2 linked regions of the Homo sapiens genome follow. The protein of the gene in region 1 interacts with the protein of each later gene in a pairwise test. Each region holds a gene or a part of one and is shown in the gene's direction. Other genes may lie near its edges. The genes, in order: SEC22C and ZSCAN29.

The links.
Region 2: the proteins of SEC22C (region 1) and ZSCAN29 interact in binary tests that used the Homo sapiens proteins (3 or more experiments, as listed by UniProt).

What each region holds. Positions count from the first base shown.
Region 1 is NC_000003.12:42,547,260-42,551,283, reverse strand, and holds the end of SEC22C (vesicle-trafficking protein SEC22c), read left to right. Parts: 3' UTR 1-2,626; coding exon of another isoform or gene 2,627-2,668; 3' UTR 2,669-3,315; downstream 3,316-4,024. UniProt on the Homo sapiens protein: May be involved in vesicle transport between the ER and the Golgi complex.
Region 2 is NC_000015.10:43,357,675-43,361,043, reverse strand, and holds the end of ZSCAN29 (zinc finger and SCAN domain-containing protein 29), read left to right. Parts: 3' UTR 1-2,869; downstream 2,870-3,369. UniProt on the Homo sapiens protein: May be involved in transcriptional regulation.

The sequences.
Region 1 (4,024 bases):
ACATCTGCATAATTTTCTGCATACCCAGCAGGTGAATTTTCAGTTTTTCTGGGAGACAATTTTGAAGAGATGGTGAAATAGAATGGGAAGTTAAGGAGGGGAGGTAAAATGTTTTAAATGAGAAGAACAAAAAAGCTTTAAAAGTCAATAACACTTTGGGAAGCTGAGGTGGGCAGATCACGAGGTCAAGAGATCGAGACCATCCTGGCTAACATGGTGAAACCCCATCTCTACTAAAAATACAAAAATTAGCTGGGCACGGTGGCTTGTGCCTGTAGCCCCAGCTACTCAGGAGGCTGAGGCAGGAGAATCTCTTGAACCCGGGAGGTGGAGGTTGCAGTGAGCCGAGATCGAGCCACTGCACTCCAGCCTGGTGACAAAGCAAGACTCCGTCTCAAAAAAAAAAAAAAAAAAAGTCGGTAAGAACGGCTTAAAAATGGACTGTTTTCTTTTCCTATGTGGCATTGGGTTGCCATGTAGACCTGTACCCCAGGTGCTTTGGGCATCTGAGCCTATGATCCATATTCAGCAGGCAGTAAAGAAACGGTCCTTGAAGATGAGTCCTTCCTGGTAATGCTTCCTGACCACCGAGGCACTACCAGAGATGTTATCCACACCAGGTCGAATGTGTGGATATCAGTTAACATCTACATGGGGTGAGATTGACTTTTGCAAACAAAAGGGAAAAGATGCACTAGAAAAACAGTACAAGTAATGACCACAAAAACATTGTTTGACTGAAATCCAGCTAGCTAAAAGAATCCTCAGCTCACTGAAGGAAGAGACTGAAAATAGGAAAGAAGTTCTGGTGATTTCATCCGAGGGAAATCCCCAGGCTTAGGTTTGACTTGGTTCAGGGTTGGAGGTTTATAGCCTCTTGTGTGATCCTTGATACCAGCAAACTGGTTCCAAATCCCAGGAGTTATCCTCACTCCACCATGGACTCACTGTTGTTGTAGCACTTTTGTTTTCCCAGTAGTTAAATGCTACCTGTGCAGCTGACATCACTGGACTAGATCTGGGAATAGATGAAATAATGTTGAAAACAAAACTTTAGAGGTGCCTTCTGGTATCAGATGCTGCAAGGCCTTGAGCATCAGAGTGTGTTAAGTCCCATCTACTGTATCAAGGCCAGAGTGTGGCTCCATGCTCTTAGGAAGGGTTTCCCAACCACGGGGCCAGAGCCCAAAAGGTTTCCCCTTCCCTAATATGCTAATGAACGAAACATGTAAATCTGTTTTCCCCTGTTAGGCTAGTCTTACTGTGATGAGAAGTGTACCTGGCTTTCCTTTTCCTGGGTGGAGACAGCTGGGGCATATTCGGGTGGCATTCCCTCTCAGTACCAGAGGCCCCACTGCCTGCAGCTGGAGGCATGTGACCATAAGCTCCTGCTTTTGCTTTTTGGGCTTGCATCCCTCTTTTCTGTGAACTCTGGAGAATGCTGGAATTAAAACATTTAAGCATTTTGATTAAATGAGCTTGAGCTCCTCTGTTCTTTTCTAGGTGCTCTTGTTCTCCAACTCTCCTGCCTCTTTCTACCTCTGCCCTATACATTCCAGCTCTGGAGACAGAGTCTGAAACTGGAGTCTCTGGAGGGATGAGAAAACCATCTTTAATTGTAACAAATGGGGTGGGTAGACGAGCTTCAGAGTGGGAGCAGATTGCATTGAGGTTCAACTCTCCCACCCATGCCTGGGAGTCAAGTCTTGGAGAGGAGTAACACTTGGTGGTCAGCACAGCTCAGAGTCAGAGACAATAGCCAGCAGGCCAGCAAGGCTGGCTGTGTGAGGCACAGGAAGCAGGGCATAGGTAGGGAGCAGAGCTGGGGGTTCTCTCTCTGCTGGAAGATAGCAGCTGCCCCTTGGCATATGGGGGTTGCACACTGCACCTTGTAGCCAGGGCTGCTATTTGCTGTTCTGTGAAGGAGTTGGCCACTCATTGTGACATGCAGGACAGTGGCCTTCTGAGAACCTGCTGCTTGCTTGCATAGTGCAGCACAAGTGAGGACAGGCAGGGGTGGGAGCATTTATGGTGATCAGATGTGCCTGGCAAGCCCCTGTTCAGACATTGCTCACATTCCAAATGTTTTCGTGTAGAATATTGCACAGGTCTGGGGACGCTCTACCTGTGCCCTGTGAGTGTTAATAATGGTGGAGAAAGAGTGTAGCTGTGCCCTTGAGAGAGAAGGTGAGGGAAAGAGTGCACCAGTCAGCTGACCGTCAGCTGGCTAGGCTCTTCACTGAGTCCTATGTCGCAGTGCACAAATCACTGCCCATCAGGCCTCAGTTTCCTCATCTGGTAAATGGTGATAACATCAATCTGCCCCCCCGCCAGGGTGCTGTTATGAGGGTCAAAAGTGGTAGTGGAGGGTAATACTGGGTGAGTCCATTGTGTGTGGGAGGAGAAAGGCTTTACATTCACCTGGTACATGAAGGTTTTTCTGCTTCAGGCAGCACAGCACAGCCATTTCTTCTGGCCTTTACAAAAAGGCATTTTGTTATACTACAGTGTAAACCTCATTTTTTTCACTCCAAAAGGTAGCAGCCCCTCTTCTTCCCACCCTGGACCTGCCTTTCACTCCCTGGGCACAGAGCGCATGGTACCATTGATGTTTGGTTTATTCCAGGATCCAAGGAGCTGGTTCTGCTGGTTGGACCAAACCTCGTGAGCCAGCCACCCCTGACCCAAATGAGGAGAGCTCTGATTCTCCCATCCGGGAGCAGTGATGTCAAACTTCTGCTGCTGGGGAAATCTCATCAGCAGGGAGCCTGTGGAAAAGGGCATGTCAGTGAAATCTGGGAATGGCTGGATTCGGAAACATCTGCCCATGTGTATTGATGGCAGAGCTGTTGCCCACAAGCGCCTTTTATTTAGGGTAAAATTAACAAATCCATTCTATTCCTCTGACCCATGCTTAGTACATATGACCTTTAACCCTTACATTTATATGATTCTGGGGTTGCTTCAGAAGTGTTATTTCATGAATCATTCATATGATTTGATCCCCCAGGATTCTATTTTGTTTAATGGGCTTTTCTACTAAAAGCATAAAATACTGAGGCTGATTTAGTCAGGGCAAAACCATTTACTTTACATATTCGTTTTCAATACTTGCTGTTCATGTTACACAAGCTTCTTACGGTTTTCTTGTAACAATAAATATTTTGAGTAAATAATGGGTACATTTTAACAAACTCAGTAGTACAACCTAAACTTGTATAAAAGTGTGTAAAAATGTATAGCCATTTATATCCTATGTATAAATTAAATGAGGTGGCTTCAGAAATGGCAGAATAAATCTAAAGTGTTTATTAACATGTGTCTTTGCACTTATGTGAAAAATTCCGAGTTATGGATCCTTTGCTAGACAGTGTGATGTGGGCCTGACATAATGGGAGGGGGTTGTTGAAAGAAGTGAAAGTCAGGTCATCTTGTCCAGTGAGGCCTAGACAGGCGCAAGGGCTCAAATAGTCTTTAGTACTAACCCCCAACCAAAATAGCAGTCACAACAATGCCCTGGGGGCTGGGAGGCCTCCCCAGTTTGCAGGCTCTGCCCCTGCCCTGCTATGTGCAGCAGGCACTTTCCGTGCTCCGCGTTTTGGGCTCTTGTCTACTGTGAAGGTGAAGTTTCATCTCCCAGGACCAGCCTGACCACAGAATGGCCACCAGGGGGCGCAGCTGCCGGCCACCTCCTCAGGTTTCCAGCCAAGGGAAGGTGGCCTTTAGCAAAGGCTGTTCCTATAGCAGCTAATAAAATTCCCAGAAAGAAAGCAAATGCACTATCCTCTCCTGACCATCCTCTAAACACATTGGGGAATTCACTCTCCAAGAGTCTCTGCACCATCTGTCCTGAATCAGAATCTTTTGGAGGAAGGCAGTGACTTCCAAAATAAACATCTGAGTTATTGGGTGCTGGGATTTGGTAGTTGATAGTTTTCAGACACCATCTGCTTTAACCACTTTTTTGCTCAGGTTGAGAAGCTGAGGCTTGTTCTAGGGAGCCAGTGACAGTAAAGTTTGGAGC
Region 2 (3,369 bases), on another chromosome or scaffold:
TCAATAAATGTATTGTTTAGAAAGTCTTCCAATAGTGAGATTCATCTACTATTCTGTGTCCAGTTAGCTTAGGAAATTCACTTTAGGATTTATGCCACTGTTTGTTCCTTGTTTTTCCTGATCTAGACTCAAATCCCCAAGGCAGTCTAAAGAATGAAAGGAAGATTTCAGTCCCTCTCTTTGCCTGCATCTGAATTGATGGATAACATCTTTTCCCTCTCAGTGCCTATGGTGTTCCCTTAATATAAGCACAGAGGACAAGGTAATAGATCCTATGAATTTGATAAGCATCCTTCTTTACTCATTCTGTCATTCAGCTGCATTTTGACAGGAAAAACCCATTACATTTCGAGAAGAAGTTATGAGACTTTGCCCATTAGGTGGGTCTAGCTCTTTTTTTTTTTTTTGGAGACGGAGTTTTGCTCTTGTTGCCCAGGCTGGAGTGCAATGGCACGATCTCAGCTCACTGCAACCTCTGCTTCCCGGGTTCAAGTGATTCTCCTGCCTCAGCCTCCCAAGTGGCTGGAATTACAAGCATGCGCCACCATGCCCAGCTAATTTTATATTTTTAGTAGAGATGGGGTTTCTCCATGTTGGGCAGGCTGGTCTCAAACTCCCGACCTCAGGTGATCTGCCTGCCTCGGCCTCCCAAAGTGCTGGGATTACAGGCATGAGCCACTGCGCCGGGCTTTTTTTTTTCGAGATGGAGTCTCACTCTGTCGTCCAGGCTGGAGTGCAGTGGCATGATCTCAGCTCACTGCAACCTCTGCCTTCTGGGTTCAAACAATTTTCCTGCCTCAGCCTCCTGAGTAGCTGGGATTACAGCCACCTGCCACCATACCAGGCTAAATTTTGCATTTTTAGTAGAGATGGGGTTTCACCATGTTGGCCAGGCTGGTTTTGAATTGACCTCATGATCTGCCTGCCTAGGTCTCCCAAAGTGCTGGGATTACAGGTGTGAGCCACTGCACCCGGCCCAGCTCTTCTTTATACAATAATGGAAATGCTAAAATGAATGACTCTTCCTGCTCACTTAAACCTGTGCTCAAAATGACATATTTGTCAGGCACCCTCTTCATTTACCTTAAAGAAGGAGAGTTTAATGTCCATCTTGGTTCTGCCCTATGAATCATCTTGTCAAGAACAGGTGTTCTTATGCAGAAACAATGAAAACCTTATACTGAAGTGTGAACCCTGGATTTCTTAGTTTCTTCTGAGTCCTAGAAGAAGGGTTGGAATAGAATAATACATTTACAGGATTTAGGTTGGTTTTCTTTCTGTCCAGTCTCATCTGAATTTCGTCTGTCTCTTGTGGTCCAGAAGTTCCACAGAGCAACGCAGCTGCATGTGGTGACAGGTAGAGCAGTTAAAGCTGCCAATAGGAACTCGTCCATATTCCACACACCTGGTATAGTGTTATGCCCTCCATGGGCACTTACCTGCAATAAGCAGAAGCCACTGCCACATTCCCGTGTATTGGGAAAATGGACTACTGTGTGCGAACAGGCCCTTTACCCTAATGGCAGGGAAGATGGATTATCTTTGGCCAGTGGAGCTGCCAATCTAGACATACACATTCAACTGAATACAATTAAAAGCAGTTCTTTAAATGCAAATATAATTACTCATCTTTATAATACAATAGTATTAACTGCCCATATGCTCATAGTATGATGAGCCCTGTATAGCACAAGGTCAACAGGTCCTCTCCTTGTCCTTACAATCTAAAGCAGATGACACTGACATGGACAAACAAGTGCACATGCATAGTTGCGGCAGTTTTAGAGAAATCTAGAAAGCTAGGTAGCAACACTATGCATAAATGTTGTGGTCCAATGCATTAGTTTGCTTTAACAAAAATCTGGGAGGTATTTTTTCTCTTTATTCAGGAAGGCTTCATGAAGCAGGAAGTGGTCAAAGGAGGGAAGGTTACTGGTTAAATTATGATAGGAAGAACTTTCCATAACTAGTTGCAAAATTGAGTGCTGGGTGGGTTGAGGAATGGGAAAAAGGGGGAGCAAGGTGTTTTGTGTAGATGGAACAAAGGGCAAAGGATAGACTGTAAGGAAGGCCAGATAAAGCTTGGAGTAGCATGAGAACTTGAGGAATAGTATGATATGGGCTGTGCAGCAGGCAGAGAGAATCACCTTAGCTGAAACATGGGTGTTAGGAGCAGACCATGAGGTGGTAGAACCATCATCTATAGTAAATCAGGTACTACGCTATAACTATTGATAAGGAAACAGCTGACTGCCACTGAAAGAATAAGCAGTTTTAGGGGACTAGCTCCTATGGGAGATAAAGGTCAGAAATCGTAGTATCTGATGAAGATATTTTGATGAGCAGGTGAGAAGAAAGATAAACATGGCCAGATGGCCAAGGACTGGGATAAGTAGCCGTTTCACATTCAATTAGAATTCTGTGGCTGGAATAAGATCAGGGAGAGCAGTAGGAAGATATAGTATTCTATAATTCATAGCTTGTTGTGTTAGAGATTAATTAGGATTCTGCTGTTGAATCTTAGTACAAAAAAATCTAATATTTATTAGGAATTAAGGGAAGATGGTACTTCTGTTATGTTGCCTAAGCAGACAGGAAGCTACAAGAAACACCAGTCTGAAGCAGTGCCTCAGGATCTCAGATGATTTAGGAAGTGTGCTGTAATGTCAAAAAAAAAAAAAAGTATTGTCTTTAGTATATCTATGTATAGTCTCGTGGGAAAAGCATTGGTTGTGGTATCAACAGATATTCTGGTTCCAGATGTCTTGTAAGTTAACCTGCCTCCATTTCCCTTTCTGTAAAGCAAAATAATGTTTACACCTAATCTGTCTCTCAGGGATACCATATTAATAAAAATCATGTCTATAAAGTGCCTGGTGTTTCTTGAAGTGTTTATGTGTGTGTGTGTATATATATACACAAATTACGATCAAGTTATGGAGGGCAGGAAAAGACCAATCTTTCTTTTTTTAACTCCTTGTGTGGGTTTACTAGAAGTATGCTTATCTGAATCTTTATATTCTAGAAAGAGGAATAAGTCAGATTGTGGTAAAAGGGAAATTAGAATGCAAATCCTTCCTTTGTACCTCTATCCATATCCACAATAAATTAGGACCCAAGATAACTGGGCATGCAGAGTCTTATTTTTTAAATTTTTATTTATTTTTTAGAGATAGGATCTCACTCTGTTGCCCAGGCTGGAGTGCAGTGGTGCCATCATAGGTCACTGCAGCTTCAAATTCCTGGGCTCAAGTGATCCCCAGCCTCCCCAATAGATGAGACTACAGGCATGAGCCACTATACTCAGCTAATTTTTTAAAGTTTTGTATTGATGAGGGGTCTACGTTGTCCAGGCTGGTCTTGAACTCC